Linked DNA regions of Homo sapiens. The protein of the gene in region 4 purifies or fractionates together with the protein of the main gene of each other region. This does not show direct contact. Each region holds a gene or a part of one and is shown on either strand. Other genes may lie near its edges. The genes, in order: EXOG, CLSTN1, PYGB, CDHR3 and PLXNB2.

What was found.
Region 1: the proteins of CDHR3 (region 4) and EXOG purify together in Homo sapiens (affinity purification with mass spectrometry; one large-scale study listed by BioGRID and IntAct). This does not show direct contact.
Region 2: the proteins of CDHR3 (region 4) and CLSTN1 purify together in Homo sapiens (affinity purification with mass spectrometry; one large-scale study listed by BioGRID and IntAct). This does not show direct contact.
Region 3: the proteins of CDHR3 (region 4) and PYGB purify together in Homo sapiens (affinity purification with mass spectrometry; one large-scale study listed by BioGRID and IntAct). This does not show direct contact.
Region 5: the proteins of CDHR3 (region 4) and PLXNB2 purify together in Homo sapiens (affinity purification with mass spectrometry; one large-scale study listed by BioGRID and IntAct). This does not show direct contact.

Annotation. Positions count from the first base shown.
Region 1 is NC_000003.12:38,495,025-38,499,149, reverse strand, and holds the start of EXOG (nuclease EXOG, mitochondrial isoform 1 precursor), read right to left. Parts: upstream 2,811-4,125; 5' UTR 2,783-2,810; coding exon 2,620-2,782; exon of another isoform or gene 1,522-2,619; coding exon 1,372-1,521; intron 384-1,371; exon of another isoform or gene 1-383. UniProt on the Homo sapiens protein: Endo/exonuclease with nicking activity towards supercoiled DNA, a preference for single-stranded DNA and 5'-3' exonuclease activity.
Region 2 is NC_000001.11:9,729,957-9,733,471, forward strand, and holds part of CLSTN1 (calsyntenin-1 isoform 1 precursor), read right to left. Parts: coding exon 3,445-3,515; intron 1,941-3,444; coding exon 1,805-1,940; intron 1,435-1,804; coding exon 1,250-1,434; intron 750-1,249; coding exon 552-749; 3' UTR 1-551. UniProt on the Homo sapiens protein: Postsynaptic adhesion molecule that binds to presynaptic neurexins to mediate both excitatory and inhibitory synapse formation.
Region 3 is NC_000020.11:25,254,573-25,258,087, reverse strand, and holds part of PYGB (glycogen phosphorylase, brain form), read right to left. Parts: intron 1-3,515. UniProt on the Homo sapiens protein: Glycogen phosphorylase that regulates glycogen mobilization. Phosphorylase is an important allosteric enzyme in carbohydrate metabolism. Enzymes from different sources differ in their regulatory mechanisms and in their natural substrates.
Region 4 is NC_000007.14:106,032,764-106,036,278, reverse strand, and holds part of CDHR3 (cadherin-related family member 3 isoform 1 precursor), read right to left. Parts: 3' UTR 1-3,515. UniProt on the Homo sapiens protein: Cadherins are calcium-dependent cell adhesion proteins.
Region 5 is NC_000022.11:50,283,638-50,287,152, forward strand, and holds part of PLXNB2 (plexin-B2 isoform 3 precursor), read right to left. Parts: coding exon 3,474-3,515; intron 2,651-3,473; coding exon 2,536-2,650; intron 2,462-2,535; coding exon 2,353-2,461; intron 2,265-2,352; coding exon 2,163-2,264; intron 1,277-2,162; coding exon of another isoform or gene 1,208-1,276; intron 1,029-1,207; coding exon 936-1,028; intron 577-935; coding exon 495-576; intron 354-494; coding exon 196-353; intron 114-195; coding exon 1-113.

The DNA.
Region 1 (4,125 bases), on a different chromosome or scaffold from region 4:
AAAGAACTTTTACAAATAAATTCAAAAGAGAATACCCCAACTGAAATAGGTAAAGAATAACTTACCAAAAAAGACTAATTCACAGCATGTTAACCCTCATTGATAATCAATAAACACAAGTAAAATGAGCATTAAATTGGTAAAGCTCAGTAATGCTCACCATAGGTGAAGGTTGAGAGAGAGAAGAAACAATGATGCTAGGAGTGTAAACTTGAAGAATCTACCTAGAAACCAATTTGACATTAATTATCAAGATCTGGCAATTCTACAGGACCCTATCAAGACATAAGGACACATGAATAAACTGACACACCTGCTTACTTCTCCAGCATCATTTCACATCACCTTCCCCCTCATTCATCTACTGGCACTCTTTTAGTTCCCTAAAAGAACAAAACTCCTGTCCACATTGGGGGCCTCCGAAGATGCAAATGTTCCTTTCTTCCTAGAATGCTCTTCTCCATATCCCATGGCACATTCAACCCCTTGCCTAAGTAATTTCCGTTCACTCTTCAGTCCACTTTTCCAGAGAAGCCTTACTAATCAAAATCAGGTTCTTGTGTTATAATCTCTCATCACACTTTTTTTTTTTTTTGAGACACATTCTCCCTCTGTTGCCTAAGCTGGAGTGTGGTGCTGCGATCTTGGCTCACTGCAACCCCCACCTCCTGGGCTCAAGAGATCCTCCCATCTCAGTCCCCCAAGTAGCTGGAACCACAGAGGTGCACCACCACGCCCAGCTAATTTTTGTATTTTTTGTAGAAACGCGGTTTTGCCATGTTGGCCAGGCTCATCTCAAACTCCTGAGCTCAAACGCCTCAGCCTCCCAAAGTACTGGGATTACAGGTGTGAGCCACCACGCCCAGCCTCTCATCAAACTTTTTACTGTTCCTTAATTATACTACACTAACTTGCAATCACCTCCTTTGGAAAAATTATTGTAATTATACATCTAAAATTATTTGTTTGATGGGTCAACCCACTCTCCCAACTCAAAGTGTCACTGGGGTAGAGATCCTCTACTCTGGTCACACATAGGTCCCCAAGGGTTACCACAGTGCCAGACACATAGCAGGCACATAAATATTTGTTAAGGTAAAACTGAATGGTGCTCATTGCTGTAATATTTATGACAGAGCCTCCCAACTAGTGTGTCAAGATATGGGTATTTTCAGCCCTGAGACAGCTGGAAAGGGTCTGGCTTTCTGGCTGCCAGGCAGGGTTGATTTAACCAGTAAGTTATATAAATATAATTTTCTACATGTGCTATGATATGAAAAAGGTTGAGAATATTAATAATCATCCCTGTTTTAAATTTGGAGACATCTTTCATAAATACTGTTACTTCAGTTTTTTTATCCAACCACCTACCCATTATCTTGCTTTTGGAAATATGTTCAAGAACCCATCTAGGCACCCGCTTTGCCTGATCATAAGACAAAGCGTGATTAGTGTAACACCTTGCCTCTGTTCCAGTTAAAGGGAATCCAAATTGTTCCAAGACAGCCTTTTCTGCAGATCCTAAAAATGAAAAAAAAAAAAAAAGGGGGGGCAGAGACAAAAAAAACACACACACACAATTAGTGGCTCTTAATAATGAAAGATTATAAGGAAAAGGAGAGCGGTGTGATTTACAAAGGACTGGCTCAGAAGTCTAATCAACCAGAAAATCTCATTTTTGCAATTACTTATGAGATGAAGAAAACAGACAGTAGGCAAAGTACTGATTTGCCTATAATCAGTGAATAAAATGCAGCTACTGCATTAACTTTTGAATAAAGACTTGATCTTATTAGTCTTTCACATCAAATTTCCAAATCATCTCTGAAGCACTGATATGTGTGCTGTTGCAAGATGACAGTAAAACTGGTACTGTTTTTCCTAGTGGGAGAAACCAAGCACACATTCAGCAGTGAGTCAGTTTCGAGATAATCCTCCCCGATGCCTTCTCAAATCCTCAACCCCCCAAGGGGGTAGTTCTCTTGCTAGATGCCAAGTATCCAAAGGAGCAAGTTAAATTAGCACATCCGCAAAGTACAAGAAATGAGCTCGTGTTAATTTTTTTTTTTTTTTTGTCAAATATAAGGTACCCATTGCAACATGAGTTTTTATACACTTTGGAGGGATAGCAGGTATTCTTCAACTGAACAATGACGAAAGAAGGGCAGTTAACTCATCTACTAAAATTATGTATTAATTTATTCCTTCATTCATACTTACTGAATGCCAATTATGTACCAGGTACTGTGCTGGTTAGATGATGGAGACCAAAACAGACATAGTCTCAAGTCTTATGGAGCTAACAATCTTAGTAGAGAACACAGACATTAAAACATAGATATCGCGATGAGTAACTGGGGGGAAGAAAGTCGGGCGGCGGGGGTGGTTCTGTGCAGAAAACGAAGATGCCCGGGGGAAGGAAGGACATGAGGGAAGCTGGCGAGACGCGAGGTGGGGAAGGGAGGCCGAGCCGGGAGAATAAAGGTCAGAAACCAAGGGCCAGGCTAGGGGCCCAGCAAACGGTGAAGGCTGTCCGTCAAGGACTGCCATTCACACTCCAGGTAGGAGTCGGAGCCCGAAATCTGGGCCAGCGAAGGGAGGACGGGCCCACAGACTTACCATCCGGCTGCTTCCCTGTCAACGCTCCCTCAGCGCCCTGACTCCGGAAGAACTGCAGGGCCGCGAGCCCAGCTCCCGCAGCGCCCACTACAGCCCCAGCCACGAAGCCGCTCAGAAAACGACGGGAACCCCGGAGGCGGGAAGCGATACTCTTGATAGCCATCTTGCCCGAGGTACCGGCCTTTTACCACGGCGCATGCGCGCGCATGCCGGCCCCCGCCATCCCCCCGTCACCCCACGCCTCACCGCCCGCCAAGCTGAGGGCCTCGCACGCCCCCTGGTGACAAACCGGGATGCCTAGCGCATCCCCGCTTCATCCCTGGTCCACTGGACGGGGCGATGGATGGGGAATATGATGTCTAGAGGGCTTAGTGGTATGCTATATATAGTCATGAGAAGAAAATACCTTTAGTCTCATTTAATAGGTGAGTAAACACTTGCGCATGGTTACACTAAGGTCTCCAGAGCCGATATTCCAACTCAGGTCTATTTATTTATTTAGCGACAGGGTCTCTGTTACCCAGGCTGCAGTACAGTGGAATGATCATAGCTTACTGCGATCTCGAACTCGTGGGCTCAAGCGATCCTCCTGCCTCAGCCTCCTGAGTAGCTGGGACTACAGGCACGTGCCACATTGCCCGGCTAAATTTTTGGCGGGAGTGGGGGAGCGGTAAAGAAGGGGGTCTCCTTATGTTGCCCAGGCTGGTATCCAACTTCTGGCCTCAAGCAATCTTCCCGCCTCGGCCTCCCAAAGTGCTGTAAGTCCAGGTGTGTGTCACTGTCCCCAACCTTCTCTTTTAAATTGGAATAATAATACTTAGACCATAGCGTTCTTGTGAGGATTAAAGGAGATGACACATGTAAAATGTTTAGGGAAGTACCAGGGGCATGTCACTAAGTGCTCTATAAATGTTAGAAATGTTTGAGTCATCTCTACTCTTTGTCTTGATAGAATATAAAATCCAGATTGCTGAACGCCTGCTGGCAAAGAAAGGATAGATTTCATGGACTACCACTCACAAACAAATGAGTCTTCATTTTGCAGCATGATCTCTAGCATTCCGTGTGGACTTAGTTCTTAGCAGAAACTTCAAGTTTCCTATTTCTTAGATAACTGGTAGGAATAACTTTCATCTGATCCCACTGATGATTCACTGACCAGGAGGCCACTTCTAACAACCTACTGAAGTGTGCACATTATTTTGACAGCCTCAAATGGGAGGCTACCCCCTTGCCAGGAATACCTCTTCTGAAGGACCCTGACTGGTTAAGCTACATCAACCAGAGTCCTTCCTAGGGATTTTCGATCTAGTAGTCTCTCTGGGTAGCAAAGCTGTGACGTAAAACTCACAGGCGCAGTGGCTCATGCCTGCAATCCCAGCACTTCGGGAGGCCAAGACTGGAGGATCACCTGAGGTCAGGAATTTGAGACCAGCCTGGCCAACATGGTGAAACCCCGTCTCTACTAACAATACAAAAATCAACCAGGTGTGGTGGCGCGTGCCT
Region 2 (3,515 bases), on a different chromosome or scaffold from region 4:
CAGTCCCGGGTTACACTAGCACAAAGGACACAAGGAATCCGATTTATTTACAAAATATTAAAAAGTCAGTTAATCATCTACACAGTACCCCCCATCCTGCCATTATTTATACATGCACTAGTTTGGAAAAAATAAAAACTTTTTTTAAAAAAAGAAAAAAATGATTACCGGGTGGGAGTGAGCATGTTTTACCCTTTGTCAACGAGCCCAGCTGGCATGGCTTTTCTGGAGTGCGAGGGGCCAGTGTCCTCTCCCCGGGGGGAGACTCCAGACACAAACGCGGGGCCTGAGGCGCTGGGAGGCCCCTGTGCGAGCCGGATGGCGGCCAGAGAGGACGTGTCAGCTCCTCGTGGGACTGAAGAGCGCGACCAGGCAGAGGGTGGGCGGGGAGCCTAGGGTCCTACACACCAAGCACAGCGACGATCGTGGCGGGGAGGGGTCTGCACACCTACTGGCCGAAATGACTTTGTACATCGTGGACCCTTGGGACTGGGAGAACGGATGGCAGCAGAGTCTTCGAAAGCAGAAACCGAGGTGGCCGGGGGCACGGGTCAGTAGCTGAGGGTGGAGTCATCCCACTCCAGCTGCTGCTGCCGGGTTGCGTTCTGGGGGTCGCCCTGCTCCCCCTCCTCCTCCTCGCTGCTCTCCGACTCGGCGCTGGTGATGTCATCCTCTTCTTCGCCGTCCTCGCTTTCCTCTTCCTCTTCCTCTTCCTCCTCCTCCTCACTGCTGTGCTGGTCCTCATAGGTCTGGCAAGGAGAAGTGACGGCCACATGAGTCCGGCCCTGCCCACAGCCCCGTCACCTGGCATTCTCCTCTCGACAGCCACAGAGGAAGGAGAACTTGCCCCAGCGTCTCCCTCCCCAGCGACAGAGCAGCCAGGACGGCACCGGAAGTTATATTAGAAGTGAAGGGAAAACAAAGCTCCAGTCAGCACCCACGGAGTCACCCACATACAAAGCAGCTTGGGACAGCACCTCAGCTGCCCCACCAGAGAACTCTCTCAGGATTACCATGACCCAAGAGCGCCAAGCCCTGGCATGGCTCTTCTCTACACTTAAGGCAGAACGGCCTTGAATAAGGTCTCTCTCAGCCTCGGTTTACCCACGAAGACACCTAAGCCCCAGGCTTGCTGAGCAGATGACGCGATGGAAAGCATGTGAACCTGAAGGAGCCGCGCCGTACCGGCTTCTCGGAGGCCCTGGCCTGTGCTGCCTCTCAGTCCTGGAGGTCGCCCGCCCACTCCTACCTCCATGGGGTTGACGGTGATGGTCAGGGCAGAGTCGTCCCAGTCCATCTCGTTCTCCTTCCCGGTGTCCTGATCCCGCATGGTCCGCCGATGTGCGGCCCGGATCCGAAATACCCCCAGGATAATCATGAACACCAGGAAGCTGACGCACACCACGATCACAACTGTCGCAGTGCTGGGGACGACTGTGGGAGAATGAGGGGGCGGGATGCGAGGTCACTCGGCCCAGAAGGCCACTGTGCCCTTGACCTCCTCGGCTGTGCCTGGTCAAAACGGGCTGGACAGCACGCTTCAGCTGAACCCACAGGCCAGGAGGAAATACCAGGAAAAGCTCGCCATGGGCCTCCAACCTGGCTCGGCCACGTCCTGCTCCATGGCTGCGGGTGACATCATCTGCCCTCTTCGAGGGCTTTAGTTTCCTTGTGTGTGATGGGGAATAATTGGGACAGGGAAAGACCGGCGGTCATGCTGAGCAGGAGGCTGTGCCCACGGTGGGGTGGGGGCAGGGCGGACGGCATGGAGCATCTCCGCTTGGTCTCCCTCCCCATGTCCTACCTGCGAACGGGTGGGGGTTGGCCAGGTTGTGGCCTGACAGGTCAACAAAGGAGCGGTGTTCCGGGTGCACGAACTGTGGCTGGGCAGCCATGTGGTTGGCGTGTTCCATGGGGTTGGCCGTGTGGATTACATTCACCTATAGCAGAGAAAGAGAGGATCGCTGGAGACAGGCATCCTGAGCCTGTCCAAGAGGTGACAGTGGAGTCCCGCAGCTGGCATGACCAGTGCCACTCAGAGTGGCTCCTGGACCGCAGCTGGGGGCAAACGGAGCTACGGGAAAAGGACAGAAAAAAAAATCAAGAGTAAGCACTTAAAAAACAAAAACAAAGAAAAAGAAACAAAAACCAAACAAAAAAGAGTAATAAGCACTTAGAAACTGCTATAACAATCTAATATTCTCACACATTCCAGAAATGTATCACTTTTCTACTTATTAGTATTTGTTGAGACTGGGTCTTGCTGTGTTGCCCGGGCTGGAGCGCAGTAGCTATTCACAAGCATGATCACGGCTCACTGCAGCCTGGAACTTCCCTGCTCAAGTAATCCTCCCACCTCAGCCTCTCAAGTAGCTGGGACTACAGGCAAGCACCACGCACCTGGCTGCAATCCATTTTTATTGCATTTTATAAAAGATTATGCCCAAAACAAGAGCAGAAAAAGAAGCCGATGGTCCTTCCCCATGGGTCGTTTGGGAAGCACTGGCGTAGACCTTTTTCCTCAAATCACAGCCGTGTGAAAGACAGCACCAATCACTGCCATGGATTTCCTTTCATATCTCTTACCCTTTGACTCAAACAAAACAGGCACCGAATTTAGCATTCTGCTCTTGAGTTCATGGTGATATTCCATTGCTAAGAGTAACTTTGGGTCAATTTTCTCCAGGCCACAGAGAGCCTGAGCGATGAAGCAGCTGCTGGATAGGTCTGTAGACGACCTCAGAGCAGGAGGAGCTACCCTCTAGCCTGTGTGGCCTGTGAGTCACCAGCGCCAGCCTCAGCAGCACTGGTCCTGCCCGTGCGGGTCCCTGCGTGAGCCCCTCTCAACCTGGGCCGAGGACTCGACTTCATTCACAGGAGGGCCAGTGACCTGGCACAGATGCAGAGAACTTTTGGTTCCCTGGATGCTGCTCTTTCTAAAACAGTGTCTTTGGCTGGGCACAGTGGCTCACGCCTGTAATCCTAGCACTTTTGGAGGCCAAGGCAAGTGGATTGCTTGAACCTGGGGGGACAAGACCAGCCTGGGCAACATAGTGAGACCTCGTCTCTAAAAATAAATAAATAAATAAAACCACATCCTCCTGTTTCTCTCATGGGAAATCTCAAGAAGCCCCAGAGGCATTAACTGCCACTTGCTCTTTGTCACCTCCCTGCAAAGTTCCTTAGGCTCCAACTCAGGCTGAGGCAGCCAGGGAAAGGGGAGCACCCCCCACCCCAGCTCACCCCAAACACAACTTGTCACTCCAACAAGCCCAGGTGTAACCTGCAGCAGGCCCCAGGCTGGAAAGGCGACCCCCTAGAATGAGCCTGTATAGCTGCCATCATGAATGCTCTGAGGTTGGCGTTTGTGAATATTAGGGCTGCAAATCAGCGCCCTCACTCACTGCTGCTATTGGCCCTGCTCAGTGGGAGCCTTGTACTCACCTCCACCTTAAATTCGTTGCTGATGTAGCGGCCATTCAGCTCTGAGCAGATGAGCTTAAACTTCCGGTCAA
Region 3 (3,515 bases), on a different chromosome or scaffold from region 4:
ATATAGGCTTCTACATTACTGTATAAATTCCAAAGTCCTTTACGTCACAGGAATTACAGCAGCATAATTAATGAGTCCTCATAGCCGCTATAAGTACAACTACTGCTGCTGTCACTCACAGTCAGGCCTCTTGTGGACTTTCATCATGCTGGATTTTATTTACACTACATTTGAACGAACTTAATATTCTATGGGGTTTCCATAGCACCTGCCTCCCCCCTCTGGCAGAGGAAGCCACAGGCACTGTCCAGGCAGGGTTTATTAACCAGTGCGAAATCATACTGAGCCCAACTAGACCCTGGCTATCTGAGAAAATACTGTGGGTCAAGTATTAACAAGAGGTTTTATAAAAAGCTGACAGGCCAGGAACATGACCAGAATGTTTTTACTTTGCCTTTAACTAAAAATGTATATTTTTTTTTAAGAGATGACGGTCTCACTATGTTGCCCAGGCTGGCTGCAAACTCCTGGCCTCAAGTGATCCTCGCGTCTCAGCCTCCCAAGCAGCTGGCACTACAGGTGCATGCCACCACACCTGGCTAAAATGTGGATTTTTAGGTTGTAGTTTGCTCTCTCTGCAAAAGTTCCTAACTTCTACTTAGAACTTTTCTACTGTGGGGAAAAAGTTTACCAGTTATGTCCCAAGAGCTTGATTATCTCTGTTTGTAAGGGACAGGACTGACACGGGAAGTGCTGGGCCTAGACTCGAAGCCTGTGCGTCTCCAATTGTCCAGGTTGCATGCAGACATCGAGGGTTCTGCAGCCTCCTGCTGAAGCACAGCCCCCAAGGCACTGCCCAGGGCCTGCCGGGCCACAGGCTCTGTCCTTGGGGACTGCAATGTGTTTTGCTGCTTTGAGGTTTTTCTGCAACTTGTTTCAATTTAAGAACTTTCATCATTTGCTGAGATGTGTCTATTTTGCTTTTACCTTAATATGGTTCAGAGTGAAAACCATGAAACTGAAAAGAGGCTTGCTGGAGGAGCTGGCCAAGAAAATGCAGACTTGAATGGTACAGGCTGGGGTCTCATCCCAGCTCCCTGCCCTGGCTAGCTGGGTGACCTGGGCAAGTCACTCAGCCTCTGAGAGGACCACATTCACCTGTGGGCTCGCACAGGGCTAGGCTAGGACTCAGGCAAGGCTGGTTCCCCTCACCATACCAGACTTTTCAAGGAGAAATGCAAAGCCTAGAAAGTTGCCAAGTGGCAGTTCTGAAAAAAACCATGTAAAGGCATAGGCTTTGTCCAAGCAACAGCCTAGGGACCTAGCTCTTCCATGACCCCAAATCCTGCTGCTGCAGGACAGCCTCTTTCCACTCACTCCCCTCTGGCTCCTCTTGTGCAACCATGAACAGGGCTTCCCTGCTCAGGGAGCGCTGGTTGGAGAACTGGACTCACCTGCTTCAGCCTGAAAATGCCAACACGATCCCTTAACCTCCCTGCTCAGCAGCTCTGCTCTAAGGAGGCCCTGCCGCCTGGGATTGAACTGGGCCATTGATCTTTCTACCATGGTCCCTTCTTGCAATATGACATAACAAGTGTTAAGTAGCCTAAAGCCAGCCTGTTTTTTGTTTTTGTTTTTGTTTTTTTTTTTTTGAGACAGAGTTTCGCTCTGTTGCCCAGGCTGGAATGCAATGGTGCAATCTTGGCTCACTGCAACCTCCACCTCCTGGGTTCAAGCCAGGCCCTCCACTTTTTTTTTTTTAACAGAGTTTATCACATGCAAAGCCTACACAACCAGGCAAATAATAGAAAAACATAAAGCTCAAAAATAGATGAAAATATGATCAACACGAACAGTACACCAAATACCAATCACCTAAAGACACCTTAGGAGTTAACAGACTCTGAAAAGAGAGTGTAACACCAACTGGCAGAGCCTCATTTTGTTCTTTACAGACAGAGATTCACAGAATTGGGCCTGTGGAGACCACCAATTTTTTCTCCCTTTTCTGAAGGGATTTTTAACTAGAGTCTTCATTTAACGTTAGTGTCTTAATACTCTGGTGGAAAAAGAAAGAACTTTCCCAACATTCAGGGAAACAAAAGAAAGAGCTGGAGCCAGGTGTGATGGCTCATGCCTATAATCCCAGCACTTTGGGAGGCTGAGGCAGGTATATCACTTGAGGTCAGGAGCTCAAGACCAGCCTGGCCAACATGATGAAACCCCGTCTCTACTAAAAATACAAAACTAGCTGGGCGTGGTGGTGCACACCTGTAATCCCACCTATTCGGAAGGCTGAGGCAGGAGAATCGCCTGAACCCGGGAGGCGGAGGTTGCAGTGAGTAGAGATCGCGCCACTGCACTCCAGCCTGGGCAACAAGAGCAAAACTCCACCTCAAAAAAAAAAAAAAGAGTTGGGCGGCTGCTTTCACCAAGATGAAGAGCCTCATTCTACAGGCAGATCTGGTCTGAAACCGGTCCCCTCCTGTCCCCAGGAAAGCACAGCAACTCTCCTTTTGTGTATTCGATTCTGTCGGTGCCAGCATGCCTCAGACCAGCCGCCCTCTACTGGTTCCTACATGGGCACAGAGTGACTCACAGGGCAGAGTGTCCCTCCCTGCCACCCAGGCACTATGGACAGAGCTGGCCCTGATAAGACACAGGAACACAGGCCACTGAGCCAGCCAGAGGCCAGTGGGCACCACGTTCCACCAGCCAGGCCTTGGAGCGGGGGCTCCCAGCCCCTCCAGACACAAAGGGGCCACCTCCCTGGGCTGGACCTGCTGGCTCCTGCTGGTGAGCTGAGCAGTCTCAGATACCATCCAGGGGAACCGAGGTCCTGTGGGAGGAGAGATGTTGAGGGGCCTCCCACCTGCCAGACGCTGAGGTTGGTCTTTGGTTTCCTTGACAGTGTCACAGTGTCCACTCCACTGTGTCTGAGGGGGCTTCTGGGGAGTTGCTCACAGAGCAATCTGATAATCCACTACTGTATCTGCTGTAAGGATGTGAGGATTAGCTAGCACATCTCTCAAGCTCCCAGCCTGTGATGTCACACGGTACTTTCTTAATGAATTAACTGCCAGGGAAACTTGGCTTCCCATGAACAGTGGGCAGGCTTCTCAACGTGGATCGTGGATTTCCTTCTCACTCCAGTACCTACGACTCAAACACAGGTCTGTTTGCTCAATTTTGAAAATGTCAAATGTAAAAGAATTATAGAACTTTAGAACTTATGGGGATCTTAAGAGATCACTTGGTTCTGTAGTAAACAAATTCCTTCTACACTCCATGACACACATTGCCACAAGTCACTGTCTCCCGCCTTCTATGCAATTAAGCTCCACAAAAAGTCTATTCAGTACTAATCCAGAGCCAGAAAGCGATGGGAGCCTTCTCCTTATCACTGACAGAGCCTAATCAACTTACACTAAGTGATCTGGACCGTGTCAAACTATATTTATACCTAGTGAGCTACCAGTCATCGTTTTTAAACACTACTTTAATCTTTCATTTTAACTGTTTGTAGGCCGAGAAATGCCACTTACCTATACCTAAAATTACATGTCATTCCTACT
Region 4 (3,515 bases):
AAAAAGGCAAACAATGAGAACCCCAGATGTGAAAGGGGGCTCTGGGGAGCAGAAGTGTCATTTCCCAGTTCTGCTTGTGAGCCACCCGTGCTTGCTACACAGGCTGAGTTTCAGACCCTGCTTTCTAATGAGCACAACAAAAAGCTCCAATGTCACAATCTACTATGCAGTTTCAAAGTCTTCGACAATTATAATTGTTACGTGGTCTAATTCCTGAACGTATTTACCCCAGTTTTATAATGAATCAGAATGAGAAAAGTAAACATTGGCTATAATCAACTCATACCTGTTTAAGGCCTTGAGAGGGAGATGGGAGAAAACTTTCACCAAATCCACGACGGTTGCTGTCTTCATTTTATTCAGATAATTTTGTTCCCCCCAAAACCTGGTCAACGCTGGGAAATTGGCTGTCTGTAACCAATCAGACTGATTGCCAGCCGAGTCTTCGTTGCAACGTTGTAACTTCACCTTAGCCTCTGATTGGTTGCTTTTTGCAACCAATCAGATGTTTGCACAGGAGCGTGACCTTTGTAACTCCACTTCAGTCTCTGATTGGTTGCTTCCTGCAACCAATCAGACCAATTGTGGTCCACTACTTCATTTCCATGAGGTGAGCATGAAGTGGCCAAGGGGAAACCTCCAAGGGGTATTTGGACTGAGAAGACTGTATCTGGGCCCTTGAGTCACTTGCTCAGGCCCGTTCCCACACTGTGGAGTGTACTTTGGTTTTCAATAAATCCCTGCTTTCATTCTTTCGTTGCCTCATTCTTTCTCTGCTTTGCTGGGCATTTTGTTCCATTCTTTGTTCAAAACTCCAAGAACTTGGACAACTTGCAGTCAAGACCCTCCACCGGTGACACTTTGACTTCTGGATTTCCCCGAACCAAATAGCCGGATATACAAAAGAAACGGGGCAGCAGGTGTTCTCTCCTCCTGGCGCACTCTTGCCCCTATTTCTTGAGTTTCTCGAGGCTTGCCTTGCGACTAGGAAGACACTCAGCTCTTCCTGCCTATCACCAGAGAAGACACTGAGCTCTTCAGAGAGGCCCCAGGCTTCAGGAAGTCCCTCTTGGTGCCTGACTTAAATCTCTTCTCTGGCCATTAAGCACAATTCCCTCTTGCCCTGTCATCACTGGAGAAGAAAGACCAGCTGCTCACCACTCTCTCCTTTTAATTATTCTTTTTTTTTTTTTTTTCTTGACACAGAGTTTTGCCCTTGTCACCCAGGCTGGAGTGCAGTGGCGCAATCTCAGCCCACTGCAACTTCTGCCTCCTGGGTTCAAGCGATTCTCTTGCCTCAGCCTCCTGAGTAGCTGGGATTACAGGTGCCTGCTAACACGTCCAGCTAATTTTTCTATTTTTTAGTAGAGACAGGGTTTCACCATGTTGGCCAGGCTGGTCTCAAACTCCTGACCTCAGGTGATCCACCTGCCTCAGCCTCCCAGAGTGCTGGGATTACAGGCATGAGCCACCTCACCCGGCCCTTTTAATCATTCTTAATGGGCTTATAAGCAGTTATTAAGTCCCCCTTCAGCCTTCTCAGAACCTCATTTTACTTGCATTGAAGCTGAGAGCTTCCAAGGAAAGCATTTGACTCCGGGCCCCACAGATTTGCAATGCCTTAAATGGGCAATCAGCCACTTCACTCACTTTAACCTGCATAAATGAACAGTTCTGCCTTCTTTTGCAAAGTTTAAATCCATTCAAGGGAGTTCCCTGGCAACCAACCCTTATTAATAAATCACGCTCAATCTAGGCCAGGACAGGCATTTTGCAAATGCTTCTTTTGCTTGAGAAGTGACACTGGCACTAGGCACACAGTAAACAAGCTGCTGCTCTCTCTGAAGCTCTACATTTGCTGGATCCAGTCTGTCTCCCACAGGACCTTGTGGACCTGGTAGGCTCTCACCTGACTCCCCAGTTGGGAAGGGAGTGCTTCCCTAATGAACACTCACCTGGACCTTTCTTAGGGTTACTGGACTAGGGTCGCAGCAGCTGGGCAGCAGGGCATAGAGCTCGAGTGAAGCTTGCTCAGGCTCTGCTAGGCACACATTGGAAAGTTACATTTCCTATTCCATCATAATACCATTTATTCCCAGTTCATTGCTCATGCCTACAGGTGGAAGTCTGAGTTTTATGTCTAGATGGGGCTTCCAGTATGTCCCCACTCAGAGTCCTGCAGTTCCTTCCAATCATAGGAAGTGGGAAGGAGCAAGGCAGGTAGGTTGTAAGGCTGATGGTGTTTCAGCTTTGAGGAAAAAGTGATTTCACTTCAATAGTAATTTTAACCAGAATGGCTAAAGTTAAAAGGATTGACAATCCCAAGTGTTGGCAAGGATAGAGAGCAATTGCAACTCTCAGTGTTTGCTGCTGGAATGTGAATCAGAGCCACCACTTTGGAACTCTTTGGCAGATCCAGCAATTGCTCCAGCAATCCCACTCTTAGATATATGAGCAAAAAAGTGAGTGTTTATGTTCACCAAAAGACATGTACAAGAAAGTTCATAGTGTTGTAATTCACTTTTATTTTTTTTTTCTGAGATGGAGTCTTGCTTTGTCACCCAGGCTAGAGTGCAGTGGCACAATCTCAACTCACTGTAACCTCCACCTCTCAGGTTTAAGCAGTTCTCCCTACCTCAGCCTCCCAAGTAGCTGGGATTACATGTGCCCACCACCACACCAAGCTAATTTTTGTATTTTTTAGTAGAGACAGGGTTTTGCCATCTAGGCCAGGCTGATCTTGAACTCCTGACCTTAGGTGATCTGCCCACCTTGGCAAAGTGCTGGCATTACAGGCATGAGCCATCATGCCCTGCCTGTAGTTCACTTTTAAGTATATTTTTTAAAAGTAAAAAATCTGAAGCAGCTGCCACCCAAGTGTAGAATAGATAAATTGTGATATAATCATAGAATGAAACCAGACATAACCATGAAGAGAACTGAACTACTGCTAGACAGGACAACGTGGATGAATCTCACATGCAGGATGCTGATCCGGACACCACAAGAAAAAACAAAAGAAGGTGCCTACTGAGTTTTCTTCTTTCCAGATGACCAACTCTTAACTTACTCATCTGTTTTTTTCACTGTTCTGCTTCTTTTGAAGAAGATTTGAGGTGACTTACAAAGGTGTATGGCATATTTATAACTGAAGAAATCTGGGTGATGTTAAAACGAGGGCAGGAAAATAAGGTGGAAACCAGATGTAAGGATAGTCTTCACTATTTATGTCAGGAATTCCTACAAACTTTCTATGGTGAACAGAATAGAGCTTCCTAGCAGTCAATGCAAAGAAGAAACACAACAATTCCACACCCCAAAGTTAACAGTCTTGCTTATCAGAAGCACAGGTAGTTCTGAAATCTGATAGAAAATGTTCCTGTATCATTTCAGAACACGCAACTATGTGATCAAACCCCTTTCTATTTGTTTAAAAATTTGTCAAACATCCCATGTTTGACCCTGGATGTCTGAATCCCCTCAGCCCACATTTTCCCCCCTACACCATGCCCACA
Region 5 (3,515 bases), on a different chromosome or scaffold from region 4:
CAGTTCCGGCCGGCCACAGAGATCCTCTGGATGTCCCCTGCTTGGACGCCCAAATTGGACCCCAGGATGGTGATGCGGATGCCCCCACCCAGGGGGCCCGTCTCAGGCTGGATCTGAAACCACAGAGCCGGGTGAGCAGGGAGGGGCTCATGCCAGGGACGAGGGAAGGTGTAGGCCAGGCTTCGAGGGGCTCACCCTGGTGATGACGGGCGGCGGGCACTCGGAGGTGGTGTTGCACAGGGCCTCATACACGCACCTGCTCTGGCCCCCGCACCACGCACACCTGTAGTCGGGGTTAGCGGCCCGGCACAGGCTGCAGTCGCTGCGGCCAAAGGAGCAGTTGTAGAGGGTCACTGCGGGGAGAGCTGCCGTCAGTGGTCACCCCGTGCCTGCCCGCCCCCGACCTGCTCCCCACTGCGCCCACCTGTCCCCCCACCCACCGCCTTGTGCCCACCCGTCCCCTGCCCGCCCCCCACTGCGCCCGTGGCCCCCACCATGGAGCTTGCTGTCGATATTCTTGCCGTAAGACTTGACGTAGAGGTGCAGGGGCAGCGTCTCGTTGGCATCGTGGGACAGCTGGGGGACACGCAGGGGCACACTGCACTTCCTGCCCCCACAGAGGGGCGTGGGGCGGGGGTCACAAGGGCAGCCTCCCTGTGGCCACCGGGTCCCTTCCCAGCCAAGGGCAGCAGGGGAGGCCTTCAGGTGTCGGAAGTTCGGGAACCCCATGGACGCTGCTCTGTGCCACTCTGTCCCCAGGGAGGCAGAGGGCAGAGGGGGCTTCCCCAGCAGCACAGGGCATGGCGAGCCCCTGGCTGGGCTCTGGTCCCTGGGGTCTCCCTGCTGCCCCTCCCCTCACAGTCCTGAAGGTGACCCCCCACCCCACCCGGGGCCCTGGGGTCCAGCAGCCGAGCCGGCCTGCCCTGGAGCCGTACCTTTGGGGTCCGAAAGGCGAAGGTCCCAGATTCCTGCATGGTCACCGGCTCCATGAACTTGAGCAAGTCACTGCCCACGTGCAGGGAGGAACCCTGCAGACCATGCCGTCAGGACCCTGGACAGGCGGCTGTGGCACCCTGGCCCTCCTCCCAGAACCCCTGCAGCCCCTCCTCTGTGCCTACAGTGTGGGAGCCCTCTCCTCACCCCACACATGCCCGCCCCTCAGATTACCATGCCAGCTGACCCCTCGGCCACTCCTGAGCCCAAACACCTGTGTCTGCAGAAGCCTCTGAACGTCCTCTGTGGGTTTCCCACGGCCACCTCCACCACTCATCCACACCTGAGAACATCGCCCGGCCCACCTGACATCGTGGCCCCCACAGCTCCCTCCTCAGGAGGTGGCACTGGCCCCTCAATCTCCACACGCCTGCCTCCTCCACTGCCTCTCTTCAGGCCCATCCAAAGGCCCCCGAGTGCTGCCTCCTGGCCTCTGTCCCCGATAAATCCTGTGCCCTCTACCTCATGTGGGGGCCCCGAGTCGGGGGGCACGGGTGGAGCTCAGGCTTCCCACACACCCATCAGCACTGGCCGGCACCCCTCCCTCCGTACCTTAGCCTGCCTGTCACCAACCGGCACCCCCTCCCTCCGCACCTGAGCCTGCCTGTCACCGGCCGGCACCCCTCCCTCCGCACCTGAGCCTGCCTGTCACCAACCGGCACCCCCTCCCTCCGCACCTGAGCCTGCCTGTCACCGGCCGGCACCCCTCCCTCCGCACCTGAGCCTGCCTGTCACCGGCCGGCACCCCTCCCTCCGCACCTGAGCCTGCCTGTCACCGGCCGGCACCCCCTCCCTCCGCACCTGAGCCTGCCTGTCACCAACCGGCACCCCCTCCCTCCGTACCTGAGCCTGCCTGTCACCGGCCGGCACCCCTCCCTCCGCACCTGAGCCTGCCTGTCACCGGCCGGCACCCCTCCCTCCGCACCTGAGCCTGCCTGTCACAGCCGGCACCCCTCCCTCCGCACCTGAGCCTGCCTGTCACCGGCCGGCACCCCTCCCTCCGCACCTGAGCCTGCCTGTCACAGCCGGCACCCCTCCCTCCGCACCTGAGCCTGCCTGTCACCGGCCGGCACCCCTCCCTCCGTACCTGAGCCTGCCTGTCACCGGCCGGCACCCCTCCCTCCGCACCTGAGCCTGCCTGTCACCAGCCGGCACCCCTCCCTCCGCACCTTCACGGTGTCCAGGTTCTTGCCCTGGAAGTTCACATCTGTCTCGTGGTTCATGGGGATCACCAGGGGGCTGGGTCCCAGGAACTGGGGACAGCTGTCCTCCTGGGAGAGTAAGGCTGGTCAGGTGCTGCCTGGGCACAGCGGAGCAGCCATGCCCTGAACAGTCCCCTGAGGCCCCGAGGCCCCTCACCATGTGGGCACGGACGATGCCGTCCTCAGGGTTGGGCGAAGCCTCCCGGCACTCGTGGTAGCGCAGGTCCCACTGGCAGGTCCAGCGGTTGCTCACGCAGGAGATGCACCTGCATCCAGAGGGGATCGTGAGCAGGGCTGGGGTGGACGGGCAGGGTGGGGTCGATGGGCACAAGACACTCACGGCAGGTTCTCCTCCAGGCTCATGGCCTGGCGGCAGTCGTAGAAGGGGTACTGGTAGGACGTGAGGAAGATGTTGCCTCGTCTAAGGAGGAGCTGGATGGTCACGGCCACGTGGTCTGCAGACAGCAGAGGGGGAGGTGTCAAGGTGGCGGCCGCAGGGCCGAGGGCCAGGCTGGGCCTCCCCTGGGGCTGACTCCTGGGGCCAAGGTGGAGACCCCTGGTCTTCAGGGGGCCCTGCCAGGACGCCCCGCATTCATGTTGGGCGGGGCCTGCCACCTGCTATCAGATCTCGGGTGGGGCTGCCAGGACGCCCGTTCACGCTGGGCTGGACCTGCCACCTGCTATCAGATCTTGGTTCGGGTGTCGGGCGCAGCACCGGGCTTGCCTTTCTCCCCCGGGTCCAGGTTGCTTTCATACCCTCTGTTCCCGCAGGCACTGAGGGCAGCGGCTCCTTGGAGTCTGAGTGGGACCTGCCAGGTCCCTGCCCACGTCACTGCGTGGCCCCACTGCCCCCAAAACTCAGGGGACATGGGCGCGACGCCTGCCCTGGCCCACATGCGAGGCCCTGCAGCCTCTGGGAACGGCCCTGCTCTCTGAAGCTGGACATGGCAGGAAGGGGTGAGGGGCGTCTGCCGAGACGACGGGGCCTGGCGCCTGGCACCCACATGCCGCTCCGGACGTGATGAGGGAGCAGGCTGAAGACAAGTCACCTTTGCTACAGGCCTGGGGGGCGTGGCTGCGGACAGCCCAAGAAGCCAGAACCTCCCCAACAGGCACAGCAACCCCACCACAGGCTTCATTCAGGCTGGGCCCCCGGAGCAGCCGCGGAGTGTGCCTGTGCAGAGCCTGCACCCAGGGGCCAGCAGAGGCGAGAGCCCGTGTGCACAGGGCCCCGTGCGACCGAGAAGGGCCACCCGGGGGCTCGGGAAGGGGCCTCACCCTGGCCTGGCGGTGTGACGGGGATGCTGCTTGGGGAGTTGC